4 linked regions of the Homo sapiens genome follow. The protein of the gene in region 3 purifies or fractionates together with the protein of the main gene of each other region. This does not show direct contact. Each region holds a gene or a part of one and is shown on either strand. Other genes may lie near its edges.

What was found.
Region 1: the proteins of ZXDA (region 3) and SUGT1 purify together in Homo sapiens (affinity purification with mass spectrometry, with the first as the bait; one large-scale study listed by BioGRID). This does not show direct contact.
Region 2: the proteins of ZXDA (region 3) and PPP6C purify together in Homo sapiens (affinity purification with mass spectrometry, with the first as the bait; one large-scale study listed by BioGRID). This does not show direct contact.
Region 4: the proteins of ZXDA (region 3) and FBXO38 purify together in Homo sapiens (affinity purification with western blotting; one study listed by BioGRID). This does not show direct contact.

Annotation. Positions count from the first base shown.
Region 1 is NC_000013.11:52,658,540-52,663,999, forward strand, and holds part of SUGT1 (protein SGT1 homolog), read left to right. Parts: intron 1-639; coding exon 640-710; intron 711-2,935; coding exon of another isoform or gene 2,936-3,031; intron 3,032-4,109; coding exon 4,110-4,163; intron 4,164-4,556; coding exon 4,557-4,573; intron 4,574-5,460. UniProt on the Homo sapiens protein: May play a role in ubiquitination and subsequent proteasomal degradation of target proteins.
Region 2 is NC_000009.12:125,151,016-125,156,475, reverse strand, and holds part of PPP6C (serine/threonine-protein phosphatase 6 catalytic subunit), read left to right. Parts: intron 1-2,490; coding exon 2,491-2,570; intron 2,571-2,733; coding exon 2,734-2,943; intron 2,944-5,460.
Region 3 is NC_000023.11:57,907,054-57,913,089, forward strand, and holds the start of ZXDA (zinc finger X-linked protein ZXDA), read right to left. Parts: upstream 3,406-6,036; 5' UTR 3,368-3,405; coding exon 968-3,367; 3' UTR 1-967. UniProt on the Homo sapiens protein: Cooperates with CIITA to promote transcription of MHC class I and MHC class II genes.
Region 4 is NC_000005.10:148,402,668-148,408,127, forward strand, and holds part of FBXO38 (F-box only protein 38), read left to right. Parts: intron 1-2,017; coding exon 2,018-2,155; intron 2,156-3,589; coding exon 3,590-3,727; intron 3,728-5,460. UniProt on the Homo sapiens protein: Substrate recognition component of a SCF (SKP1-CUL1-F-box protein) E3 ubiquitin-protein ligase complex which mediates the ubiquitination and subsequent proteasomal degradation of PDCD1/PD-1, thereby regulating T-cells-mediated immunity.

The sequences.
Region 1 (5,460 bases), on a different chromosome or scaffold from region 3:
TGCAAGCTTTATATAAGTTGTAAAATTCTGTATTTATACATTATATAGCAGAGATATGATTCAATTTTAAATACAACTTATAGTTCTATTATTTTGTTAACCAAAGTATGTGATAGGAGATCTGTACTTAGTAAATTTTAAAATAGTGATGATTGAAGTATTTGCAAGGTATAGATGAAACTGATAGATTTCACATTGCTTTTTTTTTTTTTTTTTTCAATCTTTTGGAATTTACTATATTTAATTGACTGGACAACATCCTATTCAGCAAAGCTGAATAGGCTACATTTAATGCTATGAAAGCGCTATATCTGTATACTTTATATCCCATCTTGTTTCTGTTGATAAGTATAACTATTCTTTAAGAAACTTCTTTAATTCCTTTGTATAATTATATTTTTGAGTAAGCAAGTCTGTACAATTAAAGTCAGATTCCTTCTGAAGTGAGTTCTAAAATTGAATTTTAGTAGGAATTGTACTAGATCTTAACAGTATATTAGAAAGTCTCTAGGTTTATTAACATACACTTAAAATAAATTTTTTCTTTCAACAGTAGAAAATACTAAGTTTTTTATTTAGAAAGAAGGTATTTTCCAGATTTTTTGTGTGTCTTAATTTGTTTTAAATATATTCATGCAGAATATGTGAATACCATGAAAAAAACTATGCTGCTGCCCTAGAAACTTTTACAGAAGGACAAAAATTAGATAGTAAGTATTAAAAATTATACTTTAATAAACTTATCTATTTCTGTCTTAAATACCAAAGCTGAATTTTGGTAATGTTAATTTCAAGTTAATTGTAGAAACCCAATACCTGTTTTTCTCATCTAAATTATATTTCATATTGATTGCAGATATGAGATCACTTAAAATCGATTAAATTAGCCTTTTGGCATTTAAATCATAGATGAACTTCACCATTAGAAGTAAAAAAAACTATGGAAACACCTAACATGCTCTCTCTGTTTAGTCTGGCTTTGTTTTTTTCTAATGGAGAAGTGAAAGTTTAATTTGCCTTGGTCAGAAGTCTGTTCATTTTAAATTATTCAGATTGCTGAGATGTGAAATCTTAACATTAAAGGTTTTTATGGAGAAGTGAAGTGTACGTTTGGGTAAATTATGAGAGGGTACAGAAGAAACACAGTTTTGAGAGTATTGTGACTTTTAATGTTATATTCTTGAGGGAATATATGAAAAGTATCACAGTGGTGTGGATATCTAGACATATAGAAATTGTGAGAGTCAAGAATATATATATATATATATATATATATTTTTTTTTTTTTTTTTTTTTTTTTTTTTTTTGAGACGGAGTCTCACTCTGTCGCCCAGGCTGGAGTGCAGTGGCGCGATCTCGACTCACTGCAAGCTCTGCCTCCCGGGTTCACGCCATTCTTCTGCCTCAGCCCCCCGAGTAGCTGGGACTACAGGCGACCACCACCACGCCCGGCCAATTTTTTTGTATTTTTAGTAGAGATGGGGTTTCACCATGTTAGCCAGGATGGTCTCAATCTCCTGACCTTGTGATCCACCCTCCTCGGCCTCCCAAAGTGCTGGGATTACAGGCATGAGCCACTGCACCCAGCCGAGAGCCAAGAATTTTTAAATCTGAAAAATACTAAGAGGTTGTGAGTAATTTCAGAAAATTGGAGACTACATAATCCTACTTGTATTATCATTTTATCTTTATGTTATGATAGAGTTTTATCACAGTTCTCTAAAGAAGTGGTTCTTAACTGGAAACGGTTTTGCTTCCCAGGAAACTTTATGCAATGTCTGAAGAGATTTTTGATAATCATGAATGGTGGATGGGGGTTGTGCTACTGACATCTAATGAGTATAAACCAGGGGTGCTACTAAATATTCTATAATGCCCAGGACAGTTCTGCCTAACAAAGAAGTATATGGTCCAAAATGTCAGTAGTGCTGAAATTAAGAAACTTCACTCTTAGTATTTTATGTTACATTCTTACTCTGTACTGTTTTGAATGTTTGCCTTTCTGTTGTGTACCTATTCAGAAAAAAGGATTTTAGCACTGATTATGCAAATGGAAGCTACAAATTAAAAAAGGAGAGGTCTGGGTGATAAGGCTTATTCTCAAACTTGCTTATCCCAGTTTTGGTATGTGAATAGTAGGCCTATTCAGTCAGCAAACAGGACATCTGCACTCTTAGCAAATTCTAGAGTGAAGTTATGTAGTGCCTTGGTACCTAATGTGAAAATCCTGAAGAAACATGAGTCATACCATTCTCTACATTTTCATTTTTCTTTCTTTTTTTAGCGAGAGAAGGTCTCGCTCTGTCGCCCAGGCTGGAGTGCAGTGGTGCGATCTTGGGTCACTGCAGCCTCCACCTCTTGGGCTCAAGTGATCCTCCCACCTCAGCCTCCTGAGTAACTGGGGCTACAGGCACATGCCACCACACCTGACTAATTTTTGCATTTTATTTTTTGCAGAGATGGGGATTTGCCATGTTGCCCAGGCTGGTCTTGAACTCCTGGACTCAAGCGTTCTGCCTGCCTCGGCCTCTGAAAGTGCTGGGGTTACAGGCATGAGCCACTGCGTCTGGCCCCTAGATTATTTTCTTGAGTAATATCTTAATATCATGCCATTGACATTTATTCTTTAGTTATTTCAGAGGTGGCCTTCAGAGGAAGACCTGTTTGGTAAAATTGCTGTTGAGGATATTTTACTTAAAAATAAATTTGTCTTTAAATCCAGGAAACTTTTTTTGTTGTTGTTTTTTGGGGTTTTTTTTTGTTTTTGTTTGTTTGTTTGTTTGTTTCTTTTTTTGAGACTGAGTCTCACTGTGTTGTCCAGGCCATAGTGCAGTTCTCTGTCTCTCAAGTTCAGGTGATTCTCCTGCCTCAACCTCCTGAGCAGCTGGGACTACAGGCATGCACCACCAAGCCTGGCTAATTTTTGTATTTTTAGTAGAGACGGGGTTTCATCGTGTTGGCCAGGCTGGTCTCCAACTCTTGACCTCAAGTGATCCACCTGCCTTGGACTCCCAAAGTGCTGGGATTACAGGTATGAGCCACCATGCCCGGCCAAAATCTGGGAAAAAGTTAAGTTAAACTTTTAGGCTTCTATTTTTATCAGACAGGGTAAAGAATTGTTACCTTTTCCCCTCTTTGTGTGATAAATTGCTTGGTTTTAGTTACTGATTACTTAAAATAATAGGTTACTCAAATCTTTTTGATATAATAGATTTTGATACAATAGTTCTCTAGAATACAGTGTGTGTGAGAGTGTATTTAAATTTTTTATTAATGCTGGTATAGTTGGATTTCTTTTATAAATTAGTAAAGTAGAAATTTTTGTTAAGAAATTTTTAATTTAAGATTTTCAAATTTATCTTGTCTGCAGTTAACTTGAATTAATAAGCTCTTATTTAGAGTACTTTTAATACTTTTAACATATCTTACTATGCACTGTGACTGTTTAAATGTAATCATTGTTCTGTGTCTCCAGAAGTGAATAATTTGTTTATGCATACATTTACACTGTTATCTATAAATATATAATACATCACCTATAGCCTCTCGACTGCCATGTAACTTGGAGATAGGACAAAACTTCACGGAATTTAAAGATGCTTGGTGTTGGTAGGAAAGGCATGGTAACAGATAAAGCCACTGAGAGAATAGTGGACTGAATAGGTATCTGCATTGAAGAGCAAGCTGGGGCTGGGAACGGCTTTTGAACCTCAACTCAGCTCCCAGTTACCAAGCCTCCTCCCCACCCTAACTGATGGCATATTGGGAGTCTGATTTACATCTGATTTTGTTCTGTGTGTGAGGAAGCTTCTCTAAGAGCAGCGGGATTGGGGGAAATGCAGATTATTTGTATCTGTGAAATTAAGGTTGACTGTAGTTAAAATTTTTAAAAAATCAAAATGTTTCATGATTAACAACTAAATGTTAAACTATTGGTATATTTATAACTATAGTAGAGTTGGTGATAAGGTCTGTTAAGACAGGTTTTGTTCGCTGCCGACTCCCCAGTGCCTAGAACACTGCCTGGGATGTAGTAGGTATTCAGTAAGTATTTGTTGATTTATAGGTTGTGCAGATGAGTGATGTTATAGTCAGTTTTTTCTTTCTAGGTGCAGATGCTAATTTCAGTGTCTGGATTAAAAGGTGTCAAGAAGCTCAGAATGGTATGTGGGTCTCCCTTGGTATTTGTTTCAATTTAAAAAGAAGTAAACATCTGAAATTTTTTTGGTTTAAACAAATTTGTTTTTATCTTTATAATTTCTTTTAAATAGTATACGTTTCCTTAGATGTGGACTTCCAAAGATACACTGGTTTTTGCATAGCTTCTTATGTTGAAAGGGGGATTTGGGTGGATTTGCTTGTATGGTATATCAGTAAGAAATTACTAAGGAGTCTAAAATGAATTCAGGATGCAAAATGAAACCACTTTTCTTTAGTTGAAAGGTACGGAGAATTTGCTTGCTTAATCAGTATGTTTGTGCTATAGAAATCATACAAATAACTTTGCTTAAAAATGCACTGTTCCCTGAAAATGTTTCCTTTTTATGTTTTAATAGGCTCAGAATCTGAGGTGGTAAGTCCAAAGTTTTCATTCTTCATGTTTTTATTATTTTAAATTTCAGCTACCAAATATATTTGAGACAAGACTCAGGATGAGCTGTCTGATATTTAAATATTAAGCAATTCCATTTAAGTGCTGGTTCCTCTAGGCACTGAAATAAAATCATTTTTTGATAAATATAGAAGTTTCCAGTCATGAAAATTATTGGCCTATTTTAATGAATTTAGTGTGTGGTTAAAGTTGATTTCGTGTGTTTTAATATGGTCATGATGATCATTTATCTTTTCGTTACTAAAACCTTATTGCATTTATTTAGGTTCAACAGTTTGAATCACTTGTAGGGCTTTTTATGATAGGCTAAGACAAAAGTTAAAGAAAATTGGAAATTGACAGGGTCTTGCTCTGTCATGCAGGCTGGAGTGCAGTGGTGCCATCATAGTGCACTTGAGCTTCAAACTCCTGGGCTCAAGCAATCTTCCCACCTCAGCCTTCCAAGTAGCTGGGACTACAGATGTACACCACCAAGCCTGGCTAATTACTCTGTTTCTTTAAAACGATTTTTAAAACAATGTTATTTTAGTTTAGGAAGTTGCTGAATCTTAGAACTGGCCATTTTATATAAGCAACCTTTTCTAATCATGCCTTTAGAAGTTTTCTGTTATTTAAAGTTCTGTTATTTTAGAGCAAAAATCTTTTATGAAATTCAATCTAAGATTTTTTAAATGCTGAGCATTCTAATTTTTTTCCGAAAACTAGTGGTATTTAACAATTACAGTTACTATGTCTTTGAAGAAAATTTTCATGTAGTTATTTTATATCAAAATAACTGCAGTGTTGGGTAAATTAATAATACATGCATTTTAATAATACAGTTGCTAAACTGACTTGTAAAAATCTTT
Region 2 (5,460 bases), on a different chromosome or scaffold from region 3:
ATGGTGAAACCCCGTCTCTACTTAAAATACAAAAATTAGCTGGGCATGGTGGCACTTGCCTGTAGTCCCAGCTATTCGGGAGGCTGAGGCAGGAGAATCCCTTGAACCCGGGAGGTGGAGGTTGCAGTGAGCCGAGATTGCACCATTGCACTCCAGCCTGGATGACAGTGAGGCTGTCTCAAAACGAAACAAAGCAAAGATAATCTGAACTCTCTTACTCTTCAGTTTGTCTGCCATTATCAATTAGAGAAATTTTGAGAATTTATTGTTTTTATATAATTTTTTTAATACGTGTAAAGTTAGGTAATATTTATCTCCTTTCTACAGGTGACTTTTTATTTTCATTCACAAAATAAACACCAATTGAAATACAACTTTTGGATTCTTTTGCAAAATAATCAATATTTTGGATAACATACTATGATATTAGCTCAGTGAAAACAGTACTAAAACTAATGTTATAAAAACACACACACCTACTATATATATGTAACTAATGCTACATGTATAATATATAAAATACATATTGTTATATATGGCTAATATATGACTTTTTTTTTTTTTTTTTTTTGAGACGGAGTCTCGCTCTGTCACCCAGGCTGGAGTGCAGTGGTGCGATCTTCGCTCACTGCAAGCTCTGCCTACTGGGTTCACGCCATTCTCCTGCCTCCGCCTCCCAAGTAGCTGGGACTACAGGCGCCCGCCACCATGCCCGGCTAATTTTTTTGTATTTTTTAGTAGAGACAGGGTTTCACCGTGTTAGCCAGGATGGTCTCAATCTCCTGACCTTGTGATCCGCCCGCCTCGGCCTCCCAAAGTGCTGGGATTACAGGCATGAGGCACTGCGTCCAGCCATATGACATATGTTTTGAATAAGATAATTTTAGTTATTATAGGACTTATATTGATTTTCAAGGAATAAAATATCCCTATATGACTTTACACTGGGACTTCAGTTCACACTGATAAACACATACTGGGCAGTTACTATTGAGCCAAGTTCAAGATCCCTGCCTGCAACCTGAGCTCATTGTTAGGGCTCTCTTATGGCAAGTTTACATAACAATCTTGCTTCACGTAGATATATAATTGAGAAAATCTTGGGGATTGGTCATAACCTGCAGACTTCTTTCCTATATCATTTTCAGCTTCACTTAAGGCAATAGTGATATGTCAGGTTTTTTTTTTTCTAAAATTATGGAAGAAGCCAAAGTACAGAGCTTCCATGGTGTTAACAAAAGAAGTGTGTACCCTATTAACTATGTAGACAGTCAGGGTACAGTGGCTCACATCTGTATTCTCAGCACTGTGGGAGGCTGAGGTAGGAGGATTGCTTGAGCTCAGGAGTTCAAGACCAGCCTGGACAACATAGGGAGATCCCCATCTCTACCAGAAATAAAATTAGCCAGGTGTGGTGGCACTTGCCTGTAGTTCCAGCTGTTCAGAAGGCTGAGGTGGTGGGATCGCTTGAACCCAAGTGGTTGAGGTTGCAGTGAGCTGTGATCGCGCCACTGCTGATTGTGCCACTGTATTCCAACTTGGGCAATAGAGTGAGACCTTGTCTCAAAAACAAAAAACTACGTAGGCAGCAGAAAGAGTGTTCAACTGAGAATTTGTAAGAACCTGATTGGCAATCTGTCCTCAGTTTTGATCCACTGAAGCTCAAGTGTTTAGTCGCACGATTTGCAGAAAATCTCAGAAGAGACAACTTAGCCCTGAGAAGAGTTAGGAATTGCTCATGCTCCTATAACTAAGGATCCTCTAATTTGTTTGATCTGTTTATCCTGCTAGAATTGTCTCCTTAAATAAATTTATCTGCTTACCAGAATTGCCTAATATTAACATAACTGTTAAAACATTTGCTTCAGGTTGTGTGAAATTAGTATTTAACTCTTCTAATGATAGCATTTTGGCTAATAATTTCAGCTGCTTCTTAGGTCCATTCCAGGAATGAAGAGCAGTACTACATCCTTAGGAAATACAGTCATGTGCCACATAATGACATTTCAGTCGATGATGGACTGTATATATGACAGTGGTCCCATAGATAAAACGGAGCTGAAAAATTCCTATTGCACAAATACTTACCATTGTGTTACTATTTCCTTATGATATTTAGTACAGTTACATGCTGCACAAATTTATAGCCTATGAGCAATAGGCTATATCATATTGCCTAGGTGTGTAGTAGGCTAGACCATCTAGGTTTATGTAAGGACATCCGATGATGTTCACACAACGATGAAATCACCTAACAATGCATTTTTTAGAATGTATCCCCATGGTTAAGGGACATACAACTGTATGTAGTTAGTCACTAGCGTTCTTTTGGCTCTATGTGGAGGTCCTAGCAGGACTAAATATGTGTCATATCTTGCTATCCTAGTTTAAGCTGAATTTCTGTTGTACTGAAGGCTGCTCTAGTATTGGATATATTGTTTATTTTTATTAGCAGATTCATTAATTAAAACCCTTCTGTTTCTTTCACAGATGAGTGCCAAACCAAATATGGAAATGCTAATGCCTGGAGATACTGTACCAAAGTTTTTGACATGCTCACAGTAGCAGCTGTAAGTTTCTATTTTTAAAGTCTCATGTACGTTCCTGCCAATAACACATTGCATATTTTTATCTAGTTGTCATCTCAATTATATTGATATCTTTAGTATTCACTGATGAGTTTAGATATGCCTGAGGTTATATGTTCAACTCTTTGTTATCCTTTTTTGCTAGTTAATAGATGAGCAGATTTTGTGTGTCCATGGTGGTTTATCTCCTGATATCAAAACACTGGATCAAATTCGAACCATCGAACGGAATCAGGAAATTCCTCATAAAGGAGCATTTTGTGATCTGGTTTGGTCAGATCCTGAAGATGTGGATACCTGGGCTATCAGTCCCCGAGGAGCAGGTTGGCTTTTTGGAGCAAAGGTCACAAATGAGGTAAAGCCAACATTTTTGGAAATGTAATTTGTGGATTGCTAATGGGCTGCATAGAGAACTATGGTGGCCCTAGATAACAAACTTGTAGTCTAGCTTACTCAAAATATGGTGGCTGTGGATATTAAATTTCTAGTTTAGTTATTAACGTATGTCTTTCTTTAATGGTTAAATAAGATGACACAGTGAAAGCACCTACTCCAGCATCCATTTGGTAATAATGTATAAAGTAAATGTTCTTTCCTTTTTTTTTTGTTTTTGAGATGGAGTCTTGCTCTGTCGCCTAGGCTGGAGTGCAGTGGCGTGATCTTGGCTCACTGCAACAACCTCTGCCTCCCAGGTTCAAGCCATTCTCCTGCCTCAGCCTCCTGAGTAGCTGGGACCACAGGTGTGCGCCACCATGCCTGGCTAATTTTTGTATTCTTAGTAGAGATGGGATTTCACCGTGTTGGCTAGGCTGGTCTTGAACTCCTGACCTCAGGTGATCCACCCGCCTCAGCCTCCCAAAGTGCTGGGATTATAGGTGTGAGCCACCGCACCCGGCCAGCCCCTTTCCTTTCAAGTACTGTAGTTAAGTAACAAAATGGCAAGACCAAGATAGGCAATACTTTTTTTTTTTTTTCTCAAAGACCTCAAATCACACAGATACAGACACTTTATTAGTTTCCTCTACAAGAGACAATAACATGAATCTTTTTTTTTTTGAGACAAGAGTTTCGCTCATGTTGCCCAGGCTGGAGTACAATGGTGCAATCTCGGCTCACTGCAACCTCTGCCTCCTGGATTCAAGCGATTCTCCTGTCTCAGCCTCCCGAGTAGCTGGGATTACAGGTGTACACCACCACGCCTGGCTAATTTTGTATTTTTAGTAGAGACGGGGTTTCACCATGTTGGTGAGGCTGGTCTTGAACTCCTGACCTCAGGTCATCTGCCCACCTTGGTCTCCCAAGGTGCTGGGATTACAGGCGTGAGCCACCGCGCCCAGCCTACGTCAAATCTTTTTTTTCTTTTTAACAGAAATCTCTGTTCATTTGAAAAGCCAAATAGATCCAAAGAAAGAAGATGAAAATTAAATACTTAAATTAATCAAAAGGCACTATGATACCACCTAAAACCTACTGCCACAGTGGTAGTAGGCTAAGGAAGATCAAGCTACAGCAAATCATGTAATGTGAATGTTAGCGATTACATAGCAGGAAGCACATTTGCTTTCCAGAAGACTACGGTACAGTGTTCATTTGGGCCCAAGAGGATCTTTGGCCAGGAAAGGATCAAGATGGATGAAGGTAAAGCCAAATCAAAGGAGTAGGTACAAAAGAGAATCCAAGCTACATAGTCAAGCAGATGATGATGGATCAGGCTTCTTCCTCCCAAGAAACATTTGCTGCGCTGTGCTGCCTCCCCCCTCAACCACCCCCCACCCCCTACCCCATGGCTGCTCAAGCCCAACTGCCTACTCCTGCCTTACAGGGTGCTCAGCCACCGGGACTAGGTTTGGGGTTGCCCAGGGCTCTTGCCATAATTTAGCATAGACCTTGGGGAGAACTGCTCACACATGGGTTGGCTTTGCTGCTGGTTGTTCTCAACAAAGAAAACCCTGAAGCATTCACATGCAGAGTAGTCTGAGCTTCTCCAGTCACAGTCAAACACCCCCACACAACATCCTCAAAAGTCTGAAATCTTGTAACAGCTGAGCTATAGTTAAAGCTGCAAGGCTCACAGAATCATCAAGGAAGCCAGAATGAGACAATGCAGATAGGAAGTCCCAGCAGTTAATCTCAATCCTTCTTTCTTCATTTCGGATAAGCTCAGATATACCTGATGTGGGATATAGAAAGCTACACTGGAGCAAGCTGGGTCTTCTGCTGAATTCGTCATCAAATACCAAGGGAAAACAAGGGGTGGGGTGGATTTTATTCTTAAAAAGCCTCAGAAGTTACTGTATTATAAAGGGACATGACTGAATAGGTAAGAAACGGATTCTTCATTGTGAATTTTCCTGATGGCTTCTGCAAGGCTCATAGAGATGTTGATCACCTGTATTTTGGAATGGTGCTTCATCTTGTCCTCCTGGGGTATGTTATTGGTGACTACTACTGCTTTAAAGCATGCGTTGTTGATGTGAGAAATAGCTGGACCAGAGAAGATTCTGTGAGTCAAGATAGCATAAACTTTGGTGACTCCAGCTGAGAGAAGTTTGTCAGCTGCATGGCAGATTGTGCCACAAGTGTCAACCATGTCATCCGCAAGGATGGCCACCAGATCCTTCACATCTCCCACAAGCACCATGCGGTCGACTTCATTGGCCTTCTTTGTGAATCAAGGCAAAGTCCACATTCAGCCTGTCTGCAATGGAGGTCACTCTCTTAGCTCCACCAGCATCAGATGAAACAATAGTGCAGTTCTTCTGCTCAGAGATATTCTCCCTTATCCACTTCAGGACACCTGGCTCTGCATACAGATAGTCCACTGGGTTATCAAAAAAGCCCTGAATTTGAGAAGCATGTAGGTCCATGGTGA
Region 3 (6,036 bases):
CAATGCCACAAAAGAACTGTGTGTAGAAAAATCCTTAATCTGTTGAAGAAATAACTTCCTTTTCCTCTTTCTTAACCTTCACAAATGTTTATTTCCTGCACAATCCTGATACTAATTTGTGCTAATTTCTCCCCTTTGAGGAGGGAAAACAAGGGGCAGGAAAGGGAATGAAGATTCACCAAAACATGCTGAAACACATATAACATTTTCCTTTCAATACAACCTACTGGGGTAGAAAAATAAGTCTAGGATGTAACACATATGTTCACATTGCTATGACCATTTTACAGATAGAAAACTGAGGCTAAGAGAGACTAAATAACTTATTAAAGGCCAACTTATTCAAAACCACAAAGCAAACATTTCACTCTGGGTCTGAGTGATAACAAAAGCCCTTGTATTTTCCACAACAAAAACATACCTTCATCATTTAAAAAAAAGGTTAGAAGGATAAACAGCTAAGAAGAACCAACTCCTATTTTTAGCTCTTTTTTTTTGAGCTCTATCATTAGATTTTCGTACTGTGTAAAATTTCCATTAAATTTTTAATGTAAAACACCAGTTCCTCAATCTTTCATTATTTAGTGCTACAGGGCTCAAACCGCTTCTGATTACAAGTACAAACAATAATAATTGCAAAATGCCCGAAAATTTTCAAGAAAAAGCACAAAATCACAAAACAAAACAAAACAAAACTGAAAAGACCTTATGAGCAATGTGTTCAAACCACCACAATTTATAAATAAGGAAATTAAGGCTCAGATAGGTTAAGTGACTTGCTGAGGGTCACACAACTTGTCAGTTCCAGACTCAAGATCAGAATTTAGATCTCCAAACTCATAGTCCAGGGCTGTGCTCTTTTTGCAAACCAAAAAGAAATGACTGCACTTAAATATTTAGTCCAGAATATCCTCAAAATTGACTGTAATAAAAGTTAGCCACATGGCAAGGAATGAATAGAGTTGCTTCATACCAAAAATGAGCTGCCAGTCACAGTGATAAGATTTCTTTCTTTCTGAGAACCATGGTTTCCTGCTGCATTGGGGAATCCAAACTGGGTTTCTCCCTCCTGTCCAAAGAAGTCAGAGTTAGGATGTACGCTCCACTCCGCTTTGGCTGGTGTCAGTAGTTCTGAGACACTGTTTTCACAAAGGGTGCTCGAAGGAGTCAGAGTATCTGTGTCCACTGTTAGCTTACTGCTGGGTGTCAAAGCCTGAGGCTCTGGACTGGAGTTTTTCATGGCCAAAGAGTCCAGAGATCCCAATGGCCCCACACTTACACTTGAGACCTCATCCATATTTAAGGAGCTCTGCTGAAAACCAGTGGCCGCCGTTCCAAAAAAGAGAGAGGTATCCAGACTTTGAGGAGGGTCGCTGGTGGCCATCAAGGACGGAGGGTCCACAGCCTGCCCTACGGAATTATTATTATTAGCAGGGAGGTGCCCTGCCAGAGTCGAGCTCACAGAAGCCACATCAATAGTCAAGATTCCAGAGTTCACCAATGCTGTGTCCAGCAATGCAGCAGAAGTACTGTCAGGTACATCAGAGAAGAGAGACACTATCTCTGCATCACTGAGATCATTCTGTCTCTGGCTGGTAAGTTCACTGCTGGGTGTAAGAGAATTTGCTGCTTCTAGCTGAGCTAAGAGATCCTGGCCCACCTTATGCCTTTTAACCATGTGCGTCTTCATGCTGTGCTTGGATGTGAAGAGTTTATTACAAGAGGAGATCGGGCAACGGCTTTTCCAAGTGTCCACATCCTGCAGGTGTTTCTTGGAGTGAATGTAGAGGCTACTGCGAGCAGAGAACCTGGCACAGCAGCCTGCCACAGGACACACGAAAGGCTTTGTGCCCAGGTGGGTAATGCTGTGGCCTTTCAGATGTTCGGCCCTCGTGAAAGATTTCCCACAGCCTTCCACAGGGCACATGAACCTCCGGTCATCGTCGTGCTTCCTTTTGTGCCTTAAGAGTTTGGACATGCTGGTGAAGTTCCAGCCACAGCCATCAAAGTCACAAAGGAAAGGTCTCTCGCCGGTGTGACTCCGCAGGTGAATTTTCAGCCTACAAGCCTTGTCATATTGCTTGCTGCAGCCAGGGAAAGAGCAGGAAAACAGTTCCTGTTCCCTGAAATGGGCGCGGTTATGGGAAAACAGAGCACTCACTGTGATAAATGTCTTCTTGCAGCCAGAAAACGCGCACTGGTAAGGCCTCTCGGGTTCGAAGTGGCTGCGCTGGTGGGCGCCGAGTTTGGCCTGCGTGGGGAAGCTCTCCTCGCACACCTCACATTTGAACGAGTTCTCCTGCTCATGGCCCTTCATGTGCGCCTTGAGGTTGTACACGGTGGTGAAGCTCTTGCCACAGCCCTCCGCAGGGCAGCCGAAGGGCCGCAGTTTATCGTGCGACTGCAGGTGCCTCTTGAGCTTGTAAGAGGTGGTGAAGGTCCAGCCGCAGCCACCCAGGGGGCATTTGAAGGGCCTCTGGCCCTGGCTGCTGCTGTGCGTCAGCAGGTGCATCTTCAGCTGGTGCTTCTTGGCGAAGGTTTGCCCGCACAGCGCCTCGGGGCACAGGTACAGCACCACGCCTGGACCAGAGCCCAGCAGTCCGCGGGGGCCCAGGGCGGCGGCCAGGCCCTCCGCCTCCTCCTGGGGCGCCGGAGCAGGCGCGGGTTCTGCGGGCTCGGCTAGCAGGAGGTCGGACCGCAGCTCTGGGCAGTCACCCGGGTGCGCGGCTTGCGGGAACCCAGCTTGGGGGGCGATCAGACACCTGGGCTGCTGGGCAGGAGCGGCCCCTGGCTCCCAGGCGTGTGGTGGGGGCGTGGCCAGGGTGAGGACGCCGTTCTCAAAGCGCAACAGCAGGTCCTGGTTGTGGATAGTGACTGTGCCCGCGAAGGCCGCGGCGGGGCCGGGGGCGGAGATCGGGGCCGGAGTGGGAACCGCGGACAGGCAGTGGGGGCCCTGCGCAGAGCAGCCCGCGGGGTTCGCGCCGCTCTCGTCCCCCTGGAGCCCCGGGCCCGCCTTGGCCTCCTCCCTCAACACAGGCCCTGCGGCCTGACCGGAGCCCGCGGTCTCCACGTCGCCACCCACCGGGTCAAGCAGCACCAGGAAGAAGTCGTCGCCGCCGCCGCTAGGTTGATGGGGCCTCGGCGCGAACAGGCTTGGGCCAGGGCCCCGTGATGCCGTGCTGGCCTCCTCGCGCCGCCGCCCGGGCCCGCCATCTTGGGGGCCCCGGGGCAGCAGGAGGCGGCGCGTGGGGACCTGGCCAGCCGGCGAGTCAGGGCCTCGGTGGACTCGGCCGCCACCCGCGGGGATACCGCCGCCGCCGCCGCCCTGTAGTGTCCCGCGAGCCGGGAGCAGCTTCGGGATTTCCATCTCTGCGTCCGAGAGGCTCGGCTGGAACCAGAGCCGAGGAGGAGGCGCGATCCCGCCCCCTGCCGCGGGCCTGAACACGTTCCTGAAAGGGGAAAAAAAAATGTGCAATGCGCAGAAACTGGCCCTATCAGATATTAAAATGTATTCAACGCCACAGTGATTTAAATATTCTGGTACTGGGTCTCTGGAACGGAATAGAAAGCCCAGAGGTAGAGCCTGGTATGCATAAATATATTCTACAATTAATATAAGTAATTAAGGAGGTCTTCTGAAGTAATGGGGAAATGACGACATCTTGTTCAATAATGCTGTGGAACACCTAGGTATCTATCTGGTAAAAGCAATTTTAATCCGTGACTCATTGTATATACCCAAATAAACACACGCCAGCCCCTCCCAGTGTTAGACATGTTGCTTCATACTTTTTGTGTGTTAAAATTTGTTTATTGGCTGGCTACCTGGCTGGATTGATGGATGAAAGACAATTCCTGAGAGAAAAAACTGTCTCTGTGTCAGCATTAAACCACCATAGTGCTGGCATTTCTGCGGAAATTGCCCTTCCCCTTCCCACCTCTGCGCGGGACAACTTCCATACTCACAATTGTCTTGAGCAAAGTGCTCGGTACAATTTGCCACATAGTTCAATTTTTGTCTGCTGATAACAGAGATTAGAATGAGTGAGAGATGCGGCCAAAACAGATTAGCACTCTTCAGCCTACAAATGCAAAGTCTGGAGGATGAAACAATTTATACTGAAATCTGGAAAAAAACCCAACCCGCCCCTGGCTTCTCCCTATACAGTGCACAACCTAAACCAACTCTTTGCCCTTCGACGATCGGTTGTACCATGATAAACTTCATGTCCACTCTCATAGCACAATGAGGGCATTGCTCAGTTTATTCTGCATTCTCCAGCACATTCTCTGGGCAGGAGTTCCAGTTAAATGTGTTAAGGTTAAACCCTCAGTCACTCAATGGACTCTGCCAAGTAATGTGCACAGACGATCTTGTCCACTCGCCCCGGTGTACCTGCTCACATTTAAGTGTGGTGGCCCAGTCTTGCTGGGCCTTTGGTGCCTAATGTCCTTATTAATGATGACGACAATCCTCCAATTTGTCTGTCACGAATGAGTTTGGAATTGACACAAATATAGGGTGAAATATCTGAGATGAGAAGGCTTAGAGTGATGAACAGATTGGTGGTGGTGGGGGTGGGGGGGTGTAACCTGTTGTTTAAATACTCCCAGCTCTCTCGCCCTCTTTTAATAACAGTGGACACTTGGTCTCTTGAAAATCAAGTTTTTCAACCATAACTATTCGAACCTCATCAAAATTTCTACTCCACATACTTTTCTTTCTATTACTTTTTCTGGAGGAAGCACTTTTCAAATCTGAAATTAGAAGAGTGCATATAACGTATCTGTATAGTTTAGATTATTTTACAAAAGCAGACACCTACTTAACCAGGACCAAGGTCAAGCAATAGACCACTGCCAACCTCCCAGAATACAGCTGCTGTACTCCTTCCAGTCACAAACCACACTCTCCTATATAGATATAGTAATTGCTCCGACTTTGTAATAATCATTTCACTGCTTTCCTTTATAGCTTTATCACTTTTGTACGCATCCCTAAACAATAGAGTTGATATGAAGTTGTATAAGTGGAATCATACGGCATGCTTCCTTTTATAGCTTGCTTTTTTCACTCTGTATTATACTTGAGAGACTCGTCCATGTTGTTCATAATAGCTATAAGTAAGTAGATCCTTTGTCTCCATCGACTGTCTTTCCAGCATATGCTTATAGCAAAGTGATTATTGTATGATTATTCCACTCCATTCTACAGCAGATGGAGATTAGGATTGCTTCTACTTTTCAATGATTATTGTGAACATTCTTGCACATTTCTAATGGGACACGTGTAAAAATCTCTCTAGGGTATATATCCAAGAATAGAATCACAGGGCCATAGGGAATGGATATCCTCAGCTTTACTAGATGATGCCAAATTGTTCTCTGTAGTGATTGGGAGAGTTGTCAATCCCACCAGCAGCATAGAGAGTCCTTACTGATCCACATGTTCACCTACACCAAGTATTGCCCGAATTTAAATTTTGCCGGTCTACTGGTGGGCAATATCCAAATTACTATTAAGCTTTAGCACATTTTTGTGTTAATGAGCCTTTTGGAGTTTCTATTTTGAGGAAGGCCTATTCAAATTTACCTCTTTTAACCCACGTTTCTATTTTATTGTTCATCTGATACTGACTTAATGAGTCTGTTAAATATTTTAAATACTCTTCCACACCTGCGGCCAAAATACTCCCTTGCTCTGTTTGTATATTCACTTGCTTTGTGCTCCGGTTTGTGAACAGAAGCTATTAATTATAATATAGTCAATTTCATCATTCTTTTCCTGATGGTTAGTGCTTTTTTGTTTTAAGAAATCTTTTCTGTTTTAAGGAACCCTGGACCATGAAAGCATTCTCTATATTTTCTTCTAAAATATGTCTGCTATTGTCCTTCATAGTCAGGTCTTAATCCACCTGCAATTGATGTTTGTGTATTGTGTTAAGTAGAGTTCCATTTATGTATATATGTATGTAAGTAAGTGAATATCCAGTTTTCTCAGTGAACCACTTATTGAAAAGTCTGCCTTTTGCCAGT
Region 4 (5,460 bases), on a different chromosome or scaffold from region 3:
CCCATTAAAGATCCACTGGTGTGAGGGAAATACTGCTTCACAAGTGTACATTCTCCATCTGAATATTCTTTGAAATTATATACCAGTAACTTCAACTTAAGTAAAAAGTGTAAATATTTTCTCAAATTTGTCACCTTTGGCTTAGGCCACTGAAAGGAATTCGGGGGTCCCTGTTAATATAGCTGGCCTTTAATATTTGTTTACTACTTTATTCTGTATATATACACACACATACACAGAGAGAGAGAGAGTATATGTGTTTTAAGCATTATTCTAGGTATTGGGGATGGTCTAAAGAAGTGGAAATTTCTGAAACTCAGGTGGTACAGGGAGAGCATCAGGAATGATAAGGAGTAGGTCTTAAATAAGACTTAGATACACAATTATGGGAGAAGAGTAAAGATTTCTAGCAACCCTTCATTTATAAGATCAGGGAGTGATATCTAGTTTGAAATTGGATTTTTAGATGTAAAAGGATTCTGTAATATCTGGAATTTATAATATAAGCTCCTTAAGGTCAAAGACTTATTTCCATATCTTTATATTTTCTACAATGCCTGTCACAGTTCATTGCAAATATAAGTACAGGGTAAGTTTTATTAAAATGCATTAATTTATGGGAATCATTTAACAGTTTAACACTGTATTATGGTGATGCAGAGGTGTGGTAAATTAATAAAAATAAACATTACCAGGAGAATGGGCAGTTATGTCCTTTGTTTATAGAGTTTGTTTGAGACAGAAAGTGGTTTGGGCCTGGGGTATACTGTCTTCTCTGCATCTGTCTCACCCTTCTTCCTTGGGTTTCCTAATCAGTACAATCAGTACTACCATCTTCATAGTATTACAATATATGCTAAATTTAACCTTTGTGACTTCTGCATCTTACATCTCAATCTGTACCTCACTTCTGCTTTTTGTCCTTTTGTCTCATCCTTAATTTTACTTCCCATTTGTTGCTATACAATGTGTGTGCATAGTTCAAACTAAATTTAACTCTGCTATTTTGAGAGGAACAAGTTAAGGGGTAATCCTTGTAGGTTACAATAAGAACATTTGGTAGAATTTAGCCTTTATAAACAACTGACCATTCAAGTACTGCAATTTTACATTCTCTAGTTATTCTTGCTAGCAGAGCTCCTATTGTCTCAAATTTAAAAATTGCATTAAACAGTTTTGCCAACTACTGTTTGTTAAATGCCATCATCCTGGATCCTTGGATTTCTTTAATAAATTTGTGTCCCTTCCTTGGCTTTTATCTTCTTTCATCCATATTTCCTGTATTTTTTCACCTCACGCTACACCTCCCTTCTTCTGGTCATGGTCCTCTGTGGATATGATTCCTAGTATTAAGCCACTCCTGGATCCCATGCATCAAATTACCTTTACCAATTTGAAATTCTAAAATAAATGACTGGCAGGTTTCTGCTTTTCTCAGAGCCATGCTGGCTGGCTTCTCCCACACATTTACAAATTCTTAAGATTCATATATTTATAGAAAACAGCTTTTAAAGTTCTGTGTTTGGCTATCTTCCAGATATCTATTTGCATATTTAAACCCATCTAGCTGACTTTGCTCTGAGAAATATAGTTCTCCTACTAGGGGGCAGTGGATGTTGGTAGTCAAATAGTAAATTTGTGTGTTCCATCTCCATCGTTATAGTTTTGCTTTCAGTAATCCATTTTCACTTTACCTCTTCTGGGAAAACGTATCCTAGAAGAGTTGTAAGATTATGAGAAAGACTTACATGTCTAAGACATAGAAATACTTTTTAAACTCTATCTTCCCATTGGCCTTTCCTAAAAAAGTTAAGTCAGTTTATGGTTTACGTAAACTGTTCTTTGTAAGCCTGTTTTAAATAAGGCAAACTTGATAGATTTTGTATAATTTGTTCGGATAAAAATCCTTGAAGGTTAAGCTGTTAATATGAAAAATAGACTCTTGAACTTATAAGCAAAATATAGTATATTTTTGTGATTTTTTTCTTGTTTGTTCTTTTTTATATTTGTGTTTTAGGGGTGAATGTTCCTGAAATTCCTTGTATCCCAATGCTAAGGCACCTTTATATGAAGTGGGTAAGACTCACTAAACCACAGCCATTTAAAGACTTCCTTTGTATCAGCTTAAGAACTTTCGTCATGAGGAACTGTGCAGGTAATGGTACACAATTATGGTGGAATTAAACATAAGTTATTCTAAAAATATCCTGAAGCAAACTCTAGCTACATTTGTAAATACAATTATATTATGCTATTACTATTTATGTCTTATAACATATTCATCTTGTGAAGATAAATGTACTTTTTGTTTTAAAGACATTAGAAAGATGATTTGTGTTTGACCTCAGCAAAAAAAAAAAAACAAAACTCAGAATATCTCTATTTTTTACGGGTACTTTTTACTTTTCCTAGGATTGTTTTATTAAATTTCAGTCTTCTTACTTTGTTTCTGGTCTCCGAATCATTCTGCATGTAAATAGTTGGCTTCCTTAATCTCCCTTAAACATAGCTTTTATGGTATTATCCTTCTAAACAGAAATCTTTAGTGTCCCTGTTGCCCTAGAGCAAGCTTGTTCAACCCACGGTCCACTGGCCACAGCCCACATGATGCCCAATACAAATTCTTAAACTTTCTTAAAACATTATGAGATTTATGCATAGGCTTTTTCTTCTTCTTCTTCTTTTTCTTTCCTGCTCATCAGCTATCTTTAATATCAAGACAATTTTTCCTCTTCCAATGTGGCCCAAGGCAATTTTTCCTCTTCCAGTGTGGCCCAGTGATGTCAAAATATTGGACACCGCTGCACTAGAGCATTAAGTGGGAACTACTCTGCTTAAGGTCATGATAACCAGGACCCCTCTTGATAACCTTATTCTGACACCTTTCCAAGATATATCTTCTTTTATCATCACATTTGACTATTCATTGTTCCCTGGTCAGCCATACAGCTTTCCATCTCAATGTCTTCTCTTATGCTGTATTATTGTTTCGTTATCCTGAGATGTGCACTTTCTTCCTCTGTTTTTGTATGCGTTCTTCAGGTTCTGCCTTTTCCAACTTACTTTTCTCCTCTTTCTTTTTCTTTTTCATGGAGTATGGCAGATCTTATTTTTACACTTGATGCAGTCTGCCTTCTTATCCTTCTATAATTACTTATGTTAGTTCTAGCTCCATGTCAACTGCAGGTTTTTTGATGGACAGGACCATATCTTTTGTGATCTTCTATAGTAGCTAATGCAACACTGGTCATAGAGATGATTAAATGATTGAGCTGTTTACTTGAGTGAAGGATCAAATTTTTATCTTGACTTTTTCCCATTAGTTAGTTTGAGTTCAAAACTATTGAGCCTTTAGAGAATTTACGGAATACTACATATCTCTACAGTGTTACTGAAAAACCTTTATGCTGAGTAAGTGTATGGTTAATAGGCTAACACTTTCATTTGTAACAAGAACCTGATTTCAGAGAGCCAATTTGGCTGTCATTTTAAGACTTAGAGTTTATAAGTTATACATGTCTTTCACTGATTTGAAATTCATTTTAAGGCACTTTACATTGTTCTATCAAAGATTTTTTTTTTTTTCCAGGACCCACAAATTCCTTGAAATATGTCCCTTTAGTAACAGGCTTAGCCTCTGCCCGAAACTTGGAACACTTAGAAATGGTTCGAGTTCCTTTCCTTGGAGGTCTTATCCAACATGTTGTTGAAGACAGTTGGAGATCAGGTATTCATTTTCTTTAATTACTAAATATTTTTTAAAAATCAACTTAAAATAATCATTAAGCTTTTATTTAACTTCCCTGGCAAGTCTTTAAAAAGAAAATGCTCGTCAGTAACTGCTTTCTTTGTTGTATTTGATGGACAGTAAGTAACCATGAGCATAGCTAGTATTCATTTTCTTTTGGTGCACATTAAACTTTCTTAAAATAGACAGTAGAGTGATAAGACATGTTTTCTGGCTTGTTTTGACTTTTATGTAGCTAATAATACCTCCTCTTATGTATGGAATCTTTCTTAGAAATGTTAACAGGGATTTCTAGCGTTCTTTGGTGATGTTTTACAACTTGTACAGCCGAGGCTTCCAAAAAAAATTTAGGCATTAATAATGTTAATCTCTATCACATAATACTTTATAATATAAAAAATACTTTTATACATATTACTTGGATATTGATTTACCCATCAGATGATGATATTTAAAAGAAAAAAGTTGTTCTGTGTATACTTAACTATAGATAAATAATACGTAACAGAATGTGCTTTGTGTTAAACATCTCATTGCAGAAAAAAAATAGTGGTTTAGCAAAATGGATGATTAATAGTTGGAAACCAAAAACTTAACTTTGGCTCTCTAAAATAAAATGGAAAGTCATCAAGTACCATTGTTAACAAACAGACATTATAGTTAATACTGTTGAAATATAATGAAGAGTAAACACTACATTTCTAGACATTTTGTCAGTCAAGTGTGGTATAAGTGTACTTTATTACATTTAGCCAGTGGGATGAAACAACCCCTTAAAACCAACAGTATTTTGATTGATGGCGATAGTTAACAAGATAAAAGTCAAAAACGAAAAGAAGGCTACTGGTGTATTCACTAGAGAGAAGACCTGTAGAGAGGTGCTAAAAGCTGAGTTTGTATAAAGGTCCTAAAAGAAAAACAGAGACTTTTCTTCTCTAATCAGTTTTTAAGGGTGACCCTGCCTTGTATTTTACTCAAGAAGTCAACATACCTCACACAAAAATTTATTCTAGATGGGTCATAGATTCAGATGAGAACAATTTTGAAATGAAATTTAAAAAAATAACTTAGAAGAATGTCTTGTTGACCTTGAGTACACAAAGACATCTTAAACAGGACACCAAAAAGCATTTACCATAAAGAAAATATTGATAAATTGTACCAAATTAAAATTAAAATTTTTTTTTTTTTGTCCATCAAAAGGCATGATTGAGAGAGTGAAAAACCGGCCGGGCGCAGTGGCCCACGCCTGTAATCCCAGCACTTTGGGAGGCCGAGGCGGGCGGATCATGAGGTCAGCAGATCGAGACCATCCTGGCTAACGTGGTGAAACCCCGTCTCTACTTAAAAATACAAAAAATTAGCCCGTCGTGGTGGCGGGCACCTGTAGTCCCAGCTACTCGGGAGGCTGAGGCAGGAGAATGGCGTGAACCTGGGAGGCAGAGCATGCAGTGAGCCTAGATCGCACCACTGCACTCCAGCCTGGGTGAGAGAGTGAGACTCTGTCTCAAAAAAAAAAGAGAGAGAGAGAGTGAAAAACCAAGCTACAGAATGGGAGAAGCTGTTTGCAATACAGATACTGGGTATTGGGAAGATATAAAGGACTCCTGGAATGAATAAGAAAAAGGCAGGCAACTCAATAGAAAAAATGGGAGAAGACTTGAATAGAAAAGTTTGCACACAAGAAGCCAATAAACATGAAAAAACGATAA